Regions from separate parts of the Homo sapiens genome. Here region 1 is linked to region 2. The links come from fine-mapping of genetic effects on gene expression. A gene starts in region 2. The other region holds a variant in brackets. All regions are shown on one strand. Distances are from middle to middle.

What was found. PIP is the estimated chance that this variant, and not a neighbour inherited with it, causes the effect.
Region 1: its variant is fine-mapped to the expression of TEX261 in whole blood (TOPMed, PIP above 0.99).

Annotation. Positions count from the first base shown.
Region 1 is chr2:71,064,642-71,072,641 of GRCh38, reverse strand. NAGK (N-acetylglucosamine kinase) reads right to left here and starts at 3,994. Exons shown (of 10, transcript NM_017567.6): 1 at 3,930-3,994; 2 at 2,056-2,140; 3 at 1,803-1,901; 4 at 815-956; 5 at 1. The coding sequence starts at 3,958. RefSeq lists enhancers at 85-144, 175-254 and a silencer at 3,709-3,768. The variant G/A (reference allele first, on the strand shown) is at 3,791.
Region 2 is chr2:70,989,611-71,001,837 of GRCh38, reverse strand. TEX261 (testis expressed 261) reads left to right here and starts at 6,965. Exons shown (of 6, transcript NM_144582.3): 1 at 6,965-7,150; 2 at 8,063-8,142; 3 at 9,855-10,008; 4 at 12,022-12,089. The coding sequence starts at 7,081. It overlaps LOC105374796 (a long non-coding RNA gene), which reads right to left and starts at 580. Exons shown (of 2, transcript XR_940232.3): 1 at 446-580. RefSeq lists enhancers at 78-1,030, 6,154-6,203 and silencers at 6,744-7,273, 7,304-7,393.

The DNA of each region.
Region 1 (8,000 bases), 73 kb before region 2:
CCTGGGGAAAGGGAATAGGAGGCTCAGTGTGGCCGAGGCCTGGCACAGAGCAACAGCTTGCCACTGTGGAAAGACAGGACAGAAAACAGCCCCAGGCAAGGGAATCACCACCCAGTCCTGTAGAGGAGAAAACTGAGCCCAGCTAGTTTCCTGCCTGAGGGTGAGAGCCTGGGTCTCAGAAAAACTCTAATCCCATAACGCCCTCGTCTAGGGGGACAAAGAGAAATGCAAGCCTGCACCTCTTAGAGGGAATGTGGCTCCTTGCCCAGCCGGTCTTCCAGTGACTCTACCTGCTTTACTGGGATTGTGCTAGACCCGTTCTCACAGTGATATTCACTCATACCCTAAACCATCTTATGAATACAACTTCCTCTATTTTATAGATGAGAAAACTGAAACTCAGAGTTTTGGAACTTCGCCAACATGGTATAGCAGGCAAAACAGGAACTGGGATTCAAACACCAATCCCATGACACCAAAACTCTTTACACTATCACAAGGCCACCCCACTTCCTCCTCAGCACTGACAGCTTCCCCAGCCTGCCTTCCTCACTACACCGCCCCCAGGTGGTCCCTCATCTGCAGGGGAGTTATGTTTGACCCCACTCCTGGATTCCCATCAAGAGACCTTTCTTGCCCTTCCTCCTGCTGCCTGGTCCTTGCTCTGGCAGAGACTTAAACTACTTAAAGAGTTGAGGGGAATATAAGAGTGGCTGCCTTCTGGATATTTGCAGAACAAGTTTTGTCAGCTATATCTAAGGGGCTTTCCCAAAAAAACCAGTTCTCACTCTCACCCCTCCCTCCACTTCCTCACCATCCGGTGTAGCTGTGGCGATGGAGCCGGCGGCATCGGTGGTGATTAAGTAGCTTTCACTCAGGTAGGGAAATCGGTCCCTCAGCTCCTCGATCAGGATCCTCCCCGCGTCCTCCTGGTCCCCACCGCTCAGAGATAGGCCCTAGGCCACGCGGGAGGTGAGCGAGTGTGCAGAGCCCCAGCCCCAGCTCTTTTCTCAACCCCCGCCCCCTCCTGATGCCTGATTCCTGTTCTCCCCATCTGGCCATACCCTGTTCACCCAGCCCCAGTCCTCCTTTCTCCCCACACAATGACCCCTCAGAAGGCTGTGGTTATAAGAACAACCTGGACTGGGGATGGACAGAAGAAAGAGGGGATTCAACAATGCCAGCTTTGGAGCTTGGAAGGGCAGTAGTGCTCTTAACAGAAAGATCAGGCAGCGGGGCAAGGTGAGGGGAGATGGAGAGAGGTAAGCTTGGTTTGGTATACACGAGGTTTGCCTGTGTCTGCAGAACATCTCACATATATGTCCAGGGAGTAGCTGGAGCTACCGCAACTTGGGAGAAAGATCTGAACCAGGAGTAAATAATAGCTAACATTTAATGAGTGCTTATGGGTCAGGCTCTATACTAACCACTTTGCAATGTATCATGCCATTTTACTTTCCCAACAACTCTGAGGTAGCTACTATTCACATTTTCCAAATGAGGAAACTGAGGCTTAGAGAAGGTGAGTAACCTACACAGGGTTACGCAGATACTGAGCAGCAAAGCTGGGATTCAAACCAAGGTCTCAGCAGCTCTCCAAAGCCCTGTGCTCTTCCAACACATTTGTAGTTTGTAGGTGGCAACTGAAGCCATGAGACTGGGTGAGATTATGACAGTTTTGACACCAGGGACTAAGTCTTGGAGGTCTTTCCCTCTGCAGTCATCAAACTCATCTAGTCCAAACTTGCTAGCTGTCTCAGTGTCACAGATGGCTGAATTCCCAGGCTCCGCCCCAGACTCACCAAGCTTCGCAGCGGTACCAGAGGATCCACCCCTGCTTTCCGTTTGGCCCTGTTCACCATCTCATTGATCCTCTCCACACACTTGTCTGTCCCGATCAGCTGGCCCCAATCAAGGGAAGAAGGAGTTACAAAGGCTTACAGAAGCTATGTTGCCCCCACAGGCTGCTCTGTGAGTCCCAGCCACCACCTCAACAGGAATTACAGAGAATAAAATCAGAACCAAGCCCTCTGATCCCCTCAGTGTGGTTTTTACCCAGTGGTTTGTGCTCAGTCCATCTGCTTCTGCCAGGATCTTCCCATCCTCTGAGACTAAAAGGACCTCGGATCGTGTGCCTCCCCTACAGAACACAAGAGGGCACTTGATCTTGCTCGGAAAAACCCACAGAGAGAGCTAAGCTTGTGCTGTCCACACTGGCAGAGCCCAGTATGATGGAGGAGACAGCTTCGACAAACTCAATCACCACTCCCAAACCCGCCTCTGTGGTTCAGTGTTTGAGTGCTCTTTAACTGAAACATAATTCTCACTCCTCTTCCCTTGGGGATGTCCTCCTTATCCTGCAAGACTCTACTTACGCTTCACCTAGTCCTCGAAACCTTTTCTGAGGTGTGGCCCACCCCAACGAATTAGTTAAGTCTCCGTTAGTTAAACCTTCATAGTGCCTCCAAAGTTATTAAAGTCTCCTCTGTATGAAGTGTGTGTTCAGACGCTTTGTGTCCGCCTCTCACTAGACTTCAAGCTCCACTGGGTCAAGCTCCTGATCACTTACTTACCCTCTCAGAACGAGCACAGGAGCTGGCACAGGCAATGCTCAGCAAACACTCCTAAGAAAAATGGCACATCTCTCTGCTTCCCTCACAATAGCTAAAGACTGCATTTCAAGATCCAGCTGCCAAGGTCTTCAAGACACCTTTGCTAGAAATGCTGACCAGATGGCAGGGTGACTTCATACATACTTAAGCAACTAAACCTTCAAATGTTGATTACTGGGGGTCACAGTAGTTCACAGGGAGATCTGTGGTGATGGGATATATGTTTCTTTATTGATCATTACTTTTAGGAATGGCAGAAGAAGACACTGAAGACCGCTCATCAAACTCAAAGAGGACATGAAATTTCAAGGGGGTAGTTAATACATGAGGTGGCAGATTCCACATCCAAAAGCATGTCTTGACGAACTGGAAGAAACGGGTCATATCTTACAGATGACTATAACAAGGATGAATGCAGACTCCTATACTGTTTTTTTTAAGTGCTACAAATACAGGATGGGAAAGATCATTCCTAACAATTCATGTGAAAAGACTTTGGGGTCTGTGAATCAGCAGTGGGGTGTGGCTGCCAGAGAAGTGAAAACAATCACAGATTCGAAAGTACAGTGCCCTGGCTGAGAGGCCAGCGACCCCCATTATTCCCTGATTTGACAAACTCAGATTCACAGAATGTTGCCACTGGCAGGGACATAGCGATCTTATTTATCCCTATCCTCACTTTGCACATACGGTAACTGTAGCCCAGGGAGGGTAAATATCTTGTCCATGGTCATACCCAGGGGCAGAGCTATTACAAAAAGTTCAGTAAACAAGCTTCTGAGCAGAAAAATGCAATCTAGTGAAAGCAGCATGGAAGGCCAACAGGGATGGAGCGGTTTTCAGACATCAGGACAACCTAGTACTCTGGCTCGCAGCTGCTCCAGCTCCCGGATAACCTCAGCCAAGATCTTTGTCCCGCTTCTCCCCACTCCCACTCCCCACCCTGCCCGCGCTCAGCAATTTCACACCTGACACCTGTTCTGCAAAACTCTGTCCGAGGTCAGGAATAGGAAAAAGGAGCTGCTTCTCCAGCTGAAGACAGCGGAGTGGGTGTTTCGTGGAAGAAAGGGGCGTGGTTCCGCCAAGAAACACAAAGGATCCCCAACCCGGGGTGTGGCTGTTGCACAGGCAGAGTCCCCGTAAGGCATACAGCTGTGCGCTCCAGGGCGCCCCTGCGC[G/A]TGCACACACCTCTTCACCGCAAGGTCCCGCCGCCCAAAGTGCCCGGACGCCGAGGATCAAGGCCACCAGCTTGCCAGGCTGGCCACGGCCTTCCGCCCCGCCTTCGGGCCCAGGCTCCCTCCGCCGGGCCGCACTCACCCCTCTACACCCCCATAGATCGCGGCCATGCTGCTGCTACCGTCGCTGCTGGTCCCGCCGTTTGCGTCTCTCCCCGCCTGACACCTCCTTCCCTCCAGCTGTCTGGGCACCGCCCCACTTCCCGTGACCTCCCGCGCAGCCAGCTGACTCCCTGTGCGCGTGCGCATGCGCGGGGCGGGGCGCCGGTAGGAGCCGGGGATGGCTGCGTCCCTCAGGCTGTCTTCCTTCTGGTGTCTCCTCCAGGTGGAGCGACTGCGGTCCGCAGCGGCCCCTCCCGTCCTCCTGGATCCTGCTTCCAGAGATGGACACTAATCCCAAGAGGAGGAATCAAAGAGGGGTATCTAGGTCGGTCGGACCCTTAGGACACATCACTGACCTGCCTGCCTGTAAACGCCCGGAAGTTGCTGGCAGTCCCGCGTTAGGTTGCGCGTGCGCACTGCTCTTGGCCGCGTAGGTTGTGACGCATGCTCGGCCAGACCCCCGCGAAGCTGTGGGCTCAGGGACCTGCGCCCATGGACCTGTAACAGAAATTACTGTAATGTTCTACTGAACATCTGCCACGCGATGGCGAGTCACACGGGCACACACGAACACTCGCTCAGATTGTTGCCCTGCGCTCGTGTGAATGTACGGATCCGGGAGGAATTGGGACCTAAACAGACAAGCCCTCGAGGCGGTCCCGGCAGCCCTGAGGAGGGAGCCTTCACCTCTTCCTACCCACCCAGTTTACTTCTTGTGGAGGATATTTGCAGGGACATAGCCCACTGGGAGAACTAGCAGATACGGCTTTACAAGTTTTTTATTGCCTTTCAGCCCCCATTCCGCTCCCCTTCCTTGCGCTGCGTCGGGAAAGGGAATGGGATCCCTAGGGGTGCAAATACAGGCCAAGTCAGGGAGAGCTGTGGCTCCTGAGGGCCTCCTCTGGCTCCTCCGGGAAGTTTTGGGCCCTCAAGGAGCAGCTTCGCGGGCCAGGAGGGCGGTTAGCTGCCCTTGGCATCTTTTTGGGGAAATCAGTTGGCCTGTCGCGGGTCGAACTCTGTCCCCCTTGACTGCCTGCCATCTTCTGGAGAAACCCCTAATAGGCTGCTGTGTCTGGTTATGCTTTAGTGAGAAAATTAGGCTTTTTAAGCTTTCTCATTTCCTACCCTACCACGTTGTAATTCACAAAAGTAAAAAGTAAATCACTACATGATAGACTCTGTATCATGTATTCATTTATAGAATATATATCATATATTCTATATCAGATGGAGAATATAATAGAGGGTAGGATTTTTTTATGCCTGCCTATGGCATTTTTTTAATTCACAGCACTTTAGAGCTGGAAGATTATCCAACATACACATTTTTAGAATTACAGTTAGTAGATTGTGGTGCAATTAAACTGGGCAGGATTTTTGGAGACTAGATTGTAGGTGGATTTTGAAATAATTGTTTCTGTCCTGTACTACTGCAATGAGCCATGGGACGTATGTGTATAAATATTAAGTTTGTCTTTGTATTGCTTGTTTAGGCAAGCAAGCAAAAGGGAAAGTGCCCAGGTTTAAGACAAGAATTGAGTTCACCATTTACTAGCTGGATGAGCTTGGGTGACTTACAGGTAATTGCTGCAGCCTCTCCTCTACAAAATGGAAATGATAAACATCTACCTGCTGGGGCTGACGCAAGATTTAAATGCCAAAAGAGTTTTGGAAACCATAAAGTACTTCACAGATCTTAACTAACTTGTATTTACATTACCAATTAGTGTGTGCTGTCCTGCACAGTATCCATATGTGAATACTGAGCACTTGAAATGTGGTTAGTCCAAAATGAGATGTCCCGTCAATGTAGAATACACACAGGATTTCAAAGACTTACTACAAAAAAAGAGTGTAAGATACCTCATTAGTCACTATTATATGAATCACATGTTGAAATAACATTCTGGATGTAGTAGATCAAGATTATAGATTACTAAATTTTGCCAATCTATTATATTTTTTAGTGTCACTACTAGAATATTTAAAATTTTGACCTACATATTTCTGTTGTACAACCCTGTTGTCTCTATCTGGACCATAATATTTCAAAGTCACTGAATGCCTATTTATGAAATAAATAATGGCCATATAATTGATTTAAAGAAGAAAGTAGCCGGGCGTGGTGGCTCATTCCTGTAATCCCAGCACTTTGGGAGGCCGAGGGGGTGGATCACCCAAGATCAGGAGTTCAAGACCAGCCTGGCCAACAGGGCGAGACCCTGTCTCTACTAAAAATACAAAAGTTAGTTGGGCGTGGTGACAGGCGCCTGTAATCCCAGCTACTTGGGAGGCTGAGGCAGGAGAATCACTTGAACCCAGGAGGTGGAGGTTGTGGTGAGCCAAGATTGTGCCATTGCACTCCAGCTTGGGTGACAAGAGTGAAACTCCGTCTCAAAAAAAAAAAAAAAAAAAGAATAAATAAAATACGTTTATGTTGTACATTATAATTCTTTTTGTTTGTTTGTTTGTTTGTTTGTTTTGAGACAGAGTCTTGCTCTGTCGCCCAGGCTGGAGTACAGTGTGGCGTGATCTCAGCTCACTGCAAGCTCCGCTTCCCGGGTTCACGCCATTCTCTTGCCTCAGCCTCCCCAGCAGCTGGGACTACAGGTGCACGCTGCTACGCCTGGCTAATTTTTTGTATTTTTAGTAGATACGGGGTTTCACCGTGTTAGCCAGGATGATCTCGATCTCCTGACCTTTTGATCCGCGTACCTCGGCCTCCCAAAGTGCTGGGATTACAGGCATGAGCCACTGTGCCCGGCCTTGTACATTATAATTCTATAGAGCTCTTTTATGTACCTTTATCTTGTTTGATCATCCTAACAACCTTATGAGAATGACAGATTTTTTTTTTTTGAGACAGAGTTTCACTCTGTGGCCCAGGCTGGAGTGCAGTGGTGGGATCTCGGCTCACTGCAACCTATGCCTCCTTGGTTCAAGTGATTCTCCTGCCTCAGCCTCCCAAGTAACTGGGACTACAGGCATGTGCCACCACGCCCAGCTAATTTTTGTATTTTTAGTAGAGACAGGGTTTTACCATGTTAGCCACACTGGTCTTGAACTCCTGACCTCAAGTGATCTGCCTGCCTTGGCCTCCCAAAATGCTGGGATTATAGCAGTGAGCCACCGCGGCAGGCCGAGAATGACAGATTTCTGATCACATATTACAAATGAGGAAACGAGAGGCTCTAAAATAAAAGTAAAAAGCATAGGCTCACACAAATAATAGATGTGGCTTATTATGTGTGGGTAGTTAATATAAAGGGAAGGAAATTCAAGATGTTGCAATATAGCAAGATATACCAGTTTGCACTGGGCTTGCAACATCCCAGTAGCTGCTTCTATGACACTCACAAGGTTAATAAAGTTCTTTAAGAATCTGCAAGCCACAGTCTTCTTCTCTGTCTTCTGTACTTTGTTCCTATGACCCCAGGGAGGCCATAGTTTGGGAGTCAGGGGGAAGAGTGTTAAGAGAGACAATGGGAAAATATCTTTCCTCACAAATCCACTTAGGATTTTGGGACAGATGACTTTTGGTCAGGGTCCTCAACAGATTTTGTTGACTTTATTCATGAAACACAGCCACATCTGTTTTTACTCACCACAGCATGTCCAGGGCTAACCTCAGTACTCCACAAATAGCTTTGAGAGTGGTTTATAAACTATAAACACGGTGTCACAGACATGAGGGGTAGCAAATGCCTGATTTGAACTAAAGAAGGGAGCAAGCAAATTCCACAGCAGAAACTAAATTTACAGAACAGATCAGGAAGAGAAAGAGAAAATAAGGAGAAGTGAAATTGTGAACTGAGGGAGGAGTTGTTGGACGTGTGGTCAGGGAGCCTCAAAGAGATCTAGCCCTAGTCGGTCTTGCATTAGAAGTTGCCAGTACATGTGTGACCTCAGCACTGTGCTTTAAAATAATCTGGCAGGTTACTTATAGGGTGACAAATGGGAAGGGAGAGTTTGGAGAAGGGAAACACTTAGAAGGCTGGACATTGGCCCAGGTGAGAGATGAACAAGCAAGTGGTGGAGGTGGAGGTGGAGG
Region 2 (12,227 bases):
CACACCTGCCAACTACAGGGGCCATCACAGGAAAAATTTCCCCCAGCATGTGGCACCTTAAAGAGGGGACATCGTGTGGTGGATGGCATGTGTTAGGGTGCAGTGGGGCGGGCGGTAACCTCTCTCCTCAGCTCTTCCTACCCCAAAGCTGTGCTCCTGGGAGGCCTGGGGAGCTGGTGGGGAAGGAGTTCAGGTCCAGGTAAGAGCCACACCGGGGGAGGAGAAGACTAGGCAGAGGGAGGGCCCTGGGCCTCCAGGCCTGTCTCTGCCATGTCTGATTTCACAGTGTCTCTCACAGTCTCTCACACAACAACCATCGTCTGTAGCCAGACCATGCCGGGGCAGCAGGAGCCCTGATGCCGAGGTGGACCCTGTCTACAATTTTGTGTACTGTGTGTGTGTGGTGGGTGGGTGTCGGCTGTGTGTACTCTCGGGGCCTGCCCACCTGGCCTTCATGAGTCGGGTAGTGGGGTCCCCACTGTCTCTCAAAACTGCTTTCCATAAGCGATGAACCTGGCTTCGGTCCTCGCCAGCTCCTCTGGTCGCCACTAGAGGGCAGCAGCCAACACAGCCCGGCAAGGGGAACTTTGGCGGCCGACTTCCGGCCGTACCGCCTCCTACTTCCACCTCCCCGCACCTTCCTAGCCCCTGGGGATGTGCAGGTCCCCAGCGTGTGGGTGGACCACTGGGACCACAGATCCTACTAAGGATGTCCTTGGCCTCAGGCATAGTGAATGTGTAAGTCTGTTAGAATGAGAAGGGGAGTGGGTGAAGACAGTGGAGGGGACCAGGGGTGGTCAAAGCCAGAACCCTGAGGTGTATTCATTTGTTCCTGCAAGGATAAAGGCAGGGGAGAAGAGGAAAAGCCCGGGGGACCAGGCAGCCTGCAGGGAGATGAGGCAGGACCCAGCCCACTGGCCAAATGGCACCTGATGACAAGGCAGGCAGAATCACCCTAACTGCAAAGTCAGGTGACTCAACTCAGAAAGACCAGAGAAAACCATGTGGACTCCGGAGCCAGCCTGCCCCGGTTTGACCCCTGGCTGCTTAAAATATTAGTGGTATGACTTTGGACAAGATATTGAACCTCTCCGTGCCTTGGTTTCTTAGCTGTGATGGAGACAGTAATAGTATCGCCTGTGCTAGATGTGTGTATTAAATAGGTTAGTACATACAAATCACATAGAGCAGTGTCTGACACAGAGAAAGAACACTATAAATGCTAGCAATTATTGCTTTCTGCACTTCATCTCAGCCAAAAACCTGAAAAGAAATTTGGTCTTTGTTTTCTGAAGCAGAGACACCTATTATGTTGAAATAACTAGTTTCCCCTAGAACCCTCTCATGAAATATACGGAGTTGGTCCTTCACCCTACAAACATTAAATGGTAACATTTGTGTGTGGTTTTTTTTTCTCTCTTTTTCTTTTTTTTCCCTTGAGATGGAGTTTCGCTCTTGTTGCCCAGGCTGTAGTGCAATGGCGCGATCTTGGCTCACCTCAACCTCTACCTCCTGGGTTCAAGTGATTCTCCTGCCTCAGCCTCCCGAGTACCTGGGATTACAGGCATGCGCCACCAAGCCGGCTAATTTTTTTAATTTTTAGTAGAGACGGGGGTTTCTCCATGTTGGTCAGGCTGGTCTCGAACTCCCGACCTCAGGTGATCCACCCGCCTCGGCCTCTCAAAGTGCTGGTATTACAGGAATGAGCTATCGTGCCCGGCCCTTGTGGGGTTTTTTGGAGACAAGGTCTCACTCTGTCACTCAGGCTGGAGGGCAGTGGTGCAAACATGGCTTATTGCAGGTTCAACCCCCTGGGCTCAAGGGATCCTCCCACCTGCACCTCTCAAGTAGCTAGGACCACAAGTGTGTGCCACCATGCCCAGCTAATTTTTTTTATTTCTTGTAGAGATGGGGTCCCACTATGTTTCCCAGGCTAGTCTTGAACTCCTGGGCTCAAGCAATCCTCCTGCTTCAGTGCCCAAATTGCTGGGATTACAGATGTGAGCCACCATGCCCGGCCACCTGTCAATATTTAAATCAACAAACTGGTCAGTCACCTTTGAACCTCCAAACCCTTTCACTCTTGAAATGAGTCCCTTGAATTGAGTGTGGGGACCTGCTATCCTTCCTTCCCTCCTTCAGGCAAGGCCTGGGTTTGCTCCCCTTGTAACTCCTTCCCCAAACACAGCCTAAGGATCCTCCCTGAGCCCCGCCCTGTCCTGTTGGGTCAGGTGGACCTGACTTCTCACCACTCTCAGGAAATGGTGGCCTCTCTCTTCCTGCCATCGGAGGAAATTTGAATCCTCAGCCTTACCTCTCTCAGGCTACTTTTGGCTTTAAAACTGTGGGAAGTGAAAGTGCCCAGCCCTGGAAAAACAAGGCTGGTTCAAAGGTGAAAGCACTTAACCTTTTGGGGCCTCCAGTTTCCCTTATCTACAATTCTGGAGAGGGATGGGGGATATTTTTATAGTTTCCTCCTTCCCTGGGAAGATGTTTAGGGAAAAAAAAATACCAATTGAGACTTTACTGGTTGGGTGTGGTGTCTCATGCTTGTAATCCCAGCACTTTGGGAGGCTGAGGCAGGTGGATCACTTGAGGCCAGCCTGGCCATCATGACAAAACTCCATCTCTACAAAAATATAAAAATTATCTGGGCATGGTGGTGAATGCCTGTAATACCAGCTGCTTGGGAGGCTGAGGCAGGAGAATTGCTTGAACCCGGGAAGCGGAGGTTGCAGTGAGCTGAGATTGTGCCACTGCACTCCAGCCTGGGCAACAGAGCAAGACTCCATGTCAAATAAGTAAATAAATGAGAGAGACAGAGAGAGAGAGAGAGAGTGAGAGAGAGATACTTTACTGTGCCGTTACTCACTGATGCTTCCGTGTCTCCAATACAAACTCCTCAATAGAAAAGATCTGGACATGAAGCTCCCCTATTGGAACAATCAGGGATGACCAAGTCCCATGACCTAAGGTTAGCAAACTTACCAGTAAGGCACAACTCAATGGTTTTTCCTCACATAGGGACTGGGTAACAACAGGAAATTGGAGACATCCTAGCAGGCCCATCATATTATGAACATTTTAATTGTAAACTTCATTTATGAATAGGTAACACCTTTCCATATCTTTACATAGTTCAATATTTTAAGGATATAAAAAGACATACAGTGGGAATGCTGTTTCCTACTCTGAAACCCCACCCCTTCTCTTCCTAGGAAGCAAGCAATATTACTGTTTTCTAACGTATCCTTCCAGAGATATTTTATAGAAAGAAATGTGTAGCCTGGGTGACGTGGCTCATGCCTGTATTACCAAAGTACTACTTTGGGAGGCTGTGGCAGGAGGATTGCTTGAGCCCAGGAGTTCAAGACCAGCCTGGACAGCATAATGAGACCTCATCTGTACAAAAAATAAAAATAAAAAAATCAGCCAGGTGTTATGGCATGCACTTGTAGTCCCAGCTACTTGAGAGGCTGAAGTGGGAGGATGTCTTGAGCCCTGTGGGTTGAGGGTGCAGTGAGCCATGATCTTGTCACTGTGCTCCAGCCTGGGTGACAGAGTGAGACCCTGTCCCTCCCTGCAAAAAATGTGTATATAGATTCTTTTCCCCATTCTTTTGCTTTTTTTCAAAAATAGTCCTATATAGGTACATAAAGAACACCCTCATTGGCTTTTAGGGCTAAATATACTTAACCAGTTTCCTATCAATGAACACTTAGGTTGTTTTCAGTCTCTTACAGTGCTGCAATGAAAAGCCTTGTAAATAAGCATATGGTGAGGCCGGGTGCAGTGGCTCATAACTGTAATCCCAGTACTTTGGGAGGCCAAGGTGTGTGGGTTACTTGAGGTCAGGAGTTTGAGACCAGCCTCGCCAACATGGCGAAATCCCATCTCTACAAAAATACAAAAATTAGCTGGATGTGGTGGTGGGCACCTGTAATCCCAACTGCTCAGGAGGCTGGGGCAGGAGAATCGGTTGAACCCAGGAGGCAGAGGTTGCAGTGAGCTGAAATCGTGCCACTGCACTCCAGCCTGGGCAACAGAACAAGACTCCATCTCAAAAAAAAAAAAAAAAAGGATATAGCCCTTTAAGGTCTCACTCTGTCACCCAGGCTGGAGTGCAGTGGTGTGATCCTGGTTCACTGCAACCTTGAACTCCCAGGCTCAAGCGATCTCCCACCTCAGACTCCTGAGTAGCCAGGACTACCGGCACCATTGCACCTGGATAACTTCTAAATTTTTTGTAGAGATGGGGTCTCACTTTGTTGTCTAGGTCAATCTTGAACTCCTAGGCTCAAGTAATTCTCCTGCCTAGGCCTCCCAAAGTGCTAGGATTATAGGCGTGAGCCACCCCACCATGCCCCATATACATATCTCTCAGGTATTCTTAACTGGGGGTCCAGGGACCCCTTAGAAGTCAGCAGGTATAGAATTTAGGGAGACAATTTTAAGACGCCTGGAAACTTGGAAGGAGAAAAGTTTCTATTTTTATCTATAACTCTCTCATATGATTAATGATATCTTGAAATATCATTTACCCTCACTCCTACTTTGTCATTGTGGTAGGTAGCTATTAGATTTTGCAATAGGTCTGCTTATGTCATATATTAATAGAGAAGCACATAAATTACAGAATACATTTGGTTTTCTAAAAATAGTTTAATACTTGCATTTCTATATAATTGGTTTGCTTTGTAATCTTTTTTGTTTTATTTTTGTTTTTGTTTTTGTTTTGAGACGGAGTCTCCCTCTGTCCCCCAGGCTGGAGTGCAGTGACGCGATCTCGGCTCACTGCAAGCTCCGCCTCCCGGGTTCACGCCATTCTCCTGCCTCAGCCTCCTGAGTAGCTGGGACTACAGGCGCCCGCCACCATGCCCGGCTAATTTTTTTTTTTGTATTTTTTAGTGGAGACAGAGTTTCACCGTGTTAGCCAGGATGGTCTCAATCTCCTGACCTCGTGATCCTCCCGCCTCGGCCTCCCAAAGTGCTGGGATTACAGGCGTGAGCCACCGCGCCCGGCAACTGCAATTTTTTTTTTTTTTGAGACAAGTTTTCATTCTGTCATCCCAGCTGGAATGCAGTGGCCCAATCATAGCTCACTGCAGCCGCCATCTCCTGGACTCAAGTAATCCTCCTGCCTCAGCCCAGAGTAACTGCGACTACAGGTACGCACCACCATGCCTGGCCATTTTAAAATTTTTCTTTGCCCAGGCTGGTCTTGAACTCCTGGCCTCAAGTGATCCTCCTACCTCAGCCTCCCAAAGTACTGGGATTACAGGCATGAGCCACTGTGCCCAGCCTGCTTTGTAATCTTTTTTTTTTTTTTTTTCTTGAGACGGAGTCTCGCTCTGTCGCCCAGGCTGGAGTGCAGTGGCGCAATCTCGGCTCACTGCAACTTCTGCCTCCCGGGTTCACGCTCTTCTCCTGCCTCAGTTTCTTGAGTAGCTGGGACTACAGGCGCCCGCCACCAAGCCCGGCTAATTTTTTGTATTTTTAGTAGAGACTGGGTTTCACCGTGTTAGCCAGGATGGGCTTTGTAATCTTATGTATTTTGTTGGGGGGAGGGGGAAGCTATGCATAACATAAAATTGACCGTTTTAACCATTTTACAATTCTGTAACACTGTATACAATTCAGTGACATTAAGCACATTCACACTGTTGTGATGCCATCAGCACCATCCATCTTCCCAAACTGAAACCCTGTATCCATTAAAAAGTAACTCCCCATTCTTTGTCCCCCAGACCCTGGCAAGCACCATTTAACTTTCTGCCCATGATTTTGACTACTCTGGGTACCTCATATGAGGGGAATCATACAATGTGTGTCCTTCCCTATTTGGCTTATTTCACTTAGCATCATGCCTTCAAGGTTCATTGATGTTGTAGCATGTGTCAGAATTTCACTTCATTTTAAGGCTAGATAATATTCCATTGTATGTTTATAGCACTTTATGTCTATCTTTTCGTCAACCGATGGACATTTGGGTTGCTTCCCTCTTCTGACCATTGTGAATAATGCTATGAATATTGGTATACAAATGTCTCTGCTTTCTCAGTTCTTTTGGGTATATACCCAGAAGTAGAATTGCTAAATCATACGGTAATTGTTTTTTTTAGGAATACGTATTTTTATGCAGGAAAAATATGATTCTGAAATAAGCCTACTAGACTCTTGTTCTACATACTTTATTTTGCATGCCTGTCTCCGCCACTAGATGGGAGACTTGTTGACAAGGACTAACCGGTTCCAGGTGCCCCTCAGGAACCCTCCCAGAGGTGTAGTAAATGCATCCAGCGCCTAGCGGACGCCCTGCGTGCCCGGCAAGGGGTGAGGTGCAGGCGATACAAAGGTGCAGAATGTACCCCAAAAGAACAGCCTAGAGGGGAATTAGGCCGGAGGATGACCGATTAAAATCACCCCAACTCCTGATTGTGCCGCTTCCTAGGTGCATGACCCAGGGCAACTTCCTTTGGCCCCGGCTTCCCCGTCTATAAAATGATTTACATTATCTGCTCAAATTTCCGACAAGAACACACCTCGCCTTTATCACAGAGCGTGGCACATATTAGGAATTCAATAATTTTGTCCCTATCACCTGCGATAGCAAGAGACAGACTTGTCCGCAACCTGCCGGGAGGCAGGTTCTGGGGAGGTTGCTGGGGCGCGGTCGGGCGGCCCTGTCCGGCCCTGGACCACCTCCAGGCTGGTACGGGAGTGCACAGGGAGGGACTGGAGGCTGCACTCCGAGCCCCAGTATGGGCGCTTGGTCGTCTCCGCCCCTGGGCACCGTCCCGCCTCCCTCTGGCTGCAGCGGTCTGCATTCATTCCCCTCAGTGGAGCGGGGGATCCTGGCGGGGCAGCGGCGGTTGGCCCTCCTCTCCGGCGGGCGGCGCTAGCGCGAGCCTGGCCCCGGGCAGCGCTAGGGCCGGGCTCCTCTCGGCGGCGGCGCACCGTCGTCCTGTCGTCCGCGGGGCGGGGACGCGGCGGCGGCGGCGGCGGTGGCGGCTGTGTGTCGCCGGAGCCGAAGCGCGCAGGCCCGTCCCGGTGGCCGGGGAGCGGGCGGGTGGGGGCGCCATGTGGTTCATGTACCTGCTGAGCTGGCTGTCGCTCTTCATCCAGGTGGCCTTCATCACGCTGGCTGTCGGTGAGACTGCACGACCCCGGCCCGCGCGGGCTCCCGCCCCGGCATCGGTGCTCGTTGGGGGTCGCATCGCGGGGGTTTCGGAGCCACTCGGGGGACCACTGCCCGGCGCTCCCGGCCTTCGCCGCCCCAACCCCTTCCCGCCTGATCCTGCCCCTCCTGTCGAGCCTGGCAGCCCGGCCTGACCGTGGCTCCTTCCAGGTGTCACAGAGTCCGCTCCGGCACTGCCCGAGAAAGGGTGACTCGAGTGCCGCCCCCGCGTCTGCGGACCGCTAACCGCTGCGGCTCCCACTCTTCGCGGGCCTGCCGCGCGGAACTTTTCCCCAACGCCTACCGCCGCCTTTGCGCCTCTGGCCCTTCATGCTCCCTGCTCTCTCCACCTTTGACACTTCTCCTCTGGCTGGTTCCCATTCGGCCTCAGTTGAGATGTCATCTTTTCCGGGAAGTCCACAGGGGTTGATGGTCCAGCAGTGCCCTGTCCTTTCCCTAAAGTAGCATTTCTCACACTAAACTCGTCTGTCTCTCCCTACTGTTCCCCTTCCCTTTCCCAAGCTGGGTCAGGGAAGGACCCTTGTCTGTCTTTTTCAGCTGTATTCTCAGCCCAGGGACCTGGCTCATGCCAAGTGCCCAGCAGGTGTTTATTGAATACGTGAAATTCCGTTTTCTGAGCCAGAGGTTATCATTGTACTGTGGCATCAAATGCAGACTTTCGTTGATTTTTATGAGATTTGTCCTTAGTTGCCCTAAGAAAGTTTTACTTCTCCAGACTTGGAAGGGCAACACATGGGATGTTTGGTTTGTTCTTGACCTTCTGGGGTCCATGAAGGGTGGATGGGGACTGGGCTGCAGAGAGAGGGGTGACCAGGATGGTGGGAGTGACCCTGGCTGATAGTCTCCCTGCCTCCCACCCTGCAGCGGCTGGACTCTATTACCTGGCAGAACTGATAGAAGAATACACAGTGGCCACCAGCAGGATCATAAAATACATGATCTGGGTAAGTGGCATCTTTCTCCAGGAGTCCTCCTCACTCTTTTGCCCTGCCTCAAAAGCAGGAAGTGGGGAGAGTTTGGCATGGATGATGAGGCCTGTGTCTCTGCTGTTTCCTGAGCATACACTCTTACCTCCTTGCCCTGAACGCTGTCTTTTGGGTCTGCACTCCTGGGCCCAGATCTTCCCTGGCCGCCTTCCCCAAGTGGCATTGTTTCACTGCAGGCCTTGTGCTCTAGTCCTTAAGGTGACAGCGAAGTGTACTTCTCTGTTGACAAGACCGTAGATTTGACTTTGCTTAGCTCTCTCCCGCTGTCTTTAGCCCTTTGCTCTGCTCACAGCATTTAAAACTTAGAGGAGCCATAAGACAGTTTTGCATATATGTTCATTGCCATCTTTCTAATCGGATCAAGTGATTTGTCCTAAGATCGGCACAGCTTCGCTGCCCTCGCCCTTCCCTGGTCTCATGGGAGGCTTCTCTTACTGAAGACACAGTCCTTGCCACTGATATCAAAGCCATAGGGGTGACTGCTGGTGGACAGACTTCCTTCAGCTGCAGGAAAGGCTGGGGGTAGGGGTGCCATTGGAGAGAAAGCGTCCACAGCCCCTCAAGTCGCCTGGTGTCAGCAGCCATGTGCACTCTGGGCATGGCTGAGGTTGGGAGTTCACAGTGGAGGCAAGACTATAGCCCTCAGCTCTGGTCCAGAGGCCCAGCTTGTGGGTGTTGGCACAGTAATTAGCCCTTCATTCAGCCAACTGTCATTTGCTAAGCACTGACAACTGTAGGTACTTATCAGTAGTGTTTTTCAAACTGTAGGCATGATTCATTATTTGGCTGTATAGTAGGTCACAATCAGCATTTTTTAAAAAAAGGAACATAAATAGAATTGAAATTTGAGCTTTGAATCATATATATGTATATATGTGTTGGGGTCACAGTGTAAAATGTTTTTCTTTTTCTTTTTTTTTTTTTGAGATGGAGTTTCGCTCTTATTACCCAGGCTGGAGTGCAGTGGCACAATCTCAGCTCACCGCAACCTCTGCCTCCTGGGTTCAAGCGATTCTCCTGCCTCAGCCTCCCGAGTAGCTGGGATTATAGGCATGTGCCACCATGCCTGGCTAATTTTGTATTTTTAGTAGAGATGGGGTTTCTCCATGTTGGTCAGGCTGGTCACAAACTCCCAACCTCAGGTGATCTGCCTGCCTTGGCCTCCCAAAGTGTTGGGATTCCAGGCGTGAGCCACCTCGCCTGGCAGATGTTTTTCTTACTGTGGGTTGCTGTCAAAAAGTTTGAGAAATGGGCTGGGTGCGGTGGCTCACACCTGTAATCCCAGCACTTTGGGAGGCCATCAGAAGTTTGAGACCAGCCTGGCCAACATGGCAAAACCCTGTCTCTACTAAAGACACAAAAATTAGCTGGGCGTGGTTGTGCATGCCTGTAGTCCCAACTACTCAGGAGGCTGAGGCAAGAGAATTGCTTGAATCCAGGAGATCGCGCCACTGCACTCCAGCCTGGATGACAGAGTGAGACTCCGTCTCAAAAAAAAAAAAAAAAATGTTGCCTTTTGGGAGCAGAGAACCTAGCTGGGGAGGCCAGACCTGTGAAATGAGGAGATTGAAGCATGAACCTAGTGCTGCCCAGAGCGGGCTGGGGGTTGGTGAGTCCAGGAACGTTGCCTGGAAGAAGCGCCCTGCACTGTCTGCCTCTGGTTGTTTCAGTTCTCCACCGCTGTACTGATTGGCCTCTACGTCTTTGAGCGCTTCCCCACCAGCATGATTGGAGTGGGCCTATTCACCAACCTCGTCTACTTTGGCCTCCTCCAGACCTTCCCCTTCATCATGCTGACCTCGCCTAACTTCATCCTGTCGTGTGGTGAGAGGGGACAGAGTTGGGGAGGCAGCTGATGTGGTTGGGTGTGCCCATCTCCATCCTGGGCACTAAAGGGGATACAGAAAAAGGAAGCCAGCTGTTGAAGTCCTCCAGGAAGCCAGGCTAGTTGGGAAGATGCGGTTCTTACTGCTGAGGACTCTAGAGCCCACCTTGGCTCTAGTGAATAGAATTTGTTGGGGCTGGGGACTCAGACAGGGAGGGCTTTCCCAGAGAGGTAAGTTTGAAGGAGAGTTTGGGAAAGAAGAGGTTGTGGATTGGCTGAGGCAGGGCCCCCAACTGAGCAGTTCCAGCCTCAAAAAAACCACTTGGCCAGAAAAAGCCCAAAGCCCTTCCGGTAGGCAGGCAGCTGTCCGTCCAGTCCTCTGACCCAAAGTCATTGTTAGGACTGGAGCCTCATGGGGCTGTGAGCACCTTGCAGACTCTGGCCTGGTGTGAATGCCTCCTGGGGGCTGCAGCTTCTCATCTCATTCTCACTGGCTGCCGCTGCCTCGGGCTTGAGCCTGGATGTGGAGGACCCAGTCTTCTTGGCGTTGCCCTGCCACCACTTTCTGACCCTGGGGAATCATTGGCCCTCTCTGGGCCTTAGCTTCTCCATCTATTCAGAGAGGATGTTTCTGAAAGAACTATTGGGAGACTCAGTGGGCATATAGTAGGTGCATATAGGTATTTACAGATATTCCTGGAAAAGGCTTCGGAAAGTATTTTGGTTGCCAAGATTGCCATTGCTCCTGTTCATCATTGCTGGCTACCCTAGCTTTCAGTCAGGGTATCAGATGGAGTTAGGGGTTTTTTAGAGTGACTTTTCTATTTCTATGAGAGAGCCTGGAGGGTGAATATTATCCACACAAAGGGCATATTGTTAAAGCCAAAACTGGTTTCTTCCTTGGGTGTGATTTCACCAAAGAATTTGTTCAGCAGAGGTTTGTTAGGGAGCCCTTCCATGGAGACCAGGCCCCTCTGTCCAGGGAAGAAGTCCTGCCCCCAGCCCCTCAGCAGCAGGCTCCCCTGACTTCACTCCCTTGATCTGCCCTTTAATGCCTAAAAGAGTTTTTCCAAAAGATCTTGTGGGCACCAGGCACTATCCTACCTCCCATTATCTCTTAGCCCTAGAGTGTGGCTAGGCATAGCAGAACTGTAGTCTTTGCCTTAGAATGGGAGAGGCAGGAGAGAAGAAAGGAGACATGAGAATTGCTGTGAGGTGTGTGTGAGGGGACAGTCAGTTTCAGGGGACATGTTCTTTCTGGTGCCTGCCCTTCACCTCACCATGGGAACCGGCAGGGATGACTGTCTCTTGAGCAGCCTGTGTCCAGGATATGCACACGTGCCCTCTTTTATAAACTCAGTTACACACCAAGGAGGGGTGGCTGTGTGTGTGTGTGTGTCCAGAACGTATCAGTTCACACCGGTATGCCTTACCTGGGGGCAGGATGAGGAGGGACCCCCTCCCCCAGAATGTTGAGGAACCTGAAGACTGCACCTCAAAGCATCTAGCAAGTCTTGCCCTTTTATTCCTGAGGAGTGAGAGCCTTTTTATTTGAGCAGGCCTTCTCCTTGCTGCCCAGTTTGTTTATTTGAGCAGGCCTTCTCCTTGCTGCGAGTTTGGAGTAGAGCCTCTTAGGGGCGTCTGGTCTGCACACCCATGATTTCTCCCCACCTGTCACTGTGGGAGAGCTTTCTTTAGCCCTCACATCCACGAAAAACGAGGTTCATCGTCATGATGCTTTGGATTATGTAACATAGAAGTCTCACTTTTATAACATGCAAAGAGCCTTCTTCTAATTTTACTCAGAATGCCCTGTGCAGTGGGCAGGTTGAGGCTCATTCTCCCATTTTAGCAGATGGGAAACGGTTCTAGGCAGTAGCCTACTCTGAGTTGAGTGTAAAGTCAGGCCTAAGACTCCATGGAGGCTCCCAACTTCTGAGGGCCTTTTGAAGTTAAAAGTACAGCTTTCTGTTATTCCCCTTAAACTGACTGACTCTTCATTCCCTCAACAGGACTAGTGGTGGTGAATCATTACCTAGCATTTCAGTTTTTTGCAGAAGAATATTATCCCTTCTCAGAGGTAAGAAGTGTCCAGCACATTCAGCTGTTAACAGGGACAGGGTAGTAAAAGGGAACTTGCATGGTTTACTTTATAAACTTAGCTATGATTTGAAACTGAATCTGTTCAAGGATTACATGTTTGAAAAAAACAAAACAT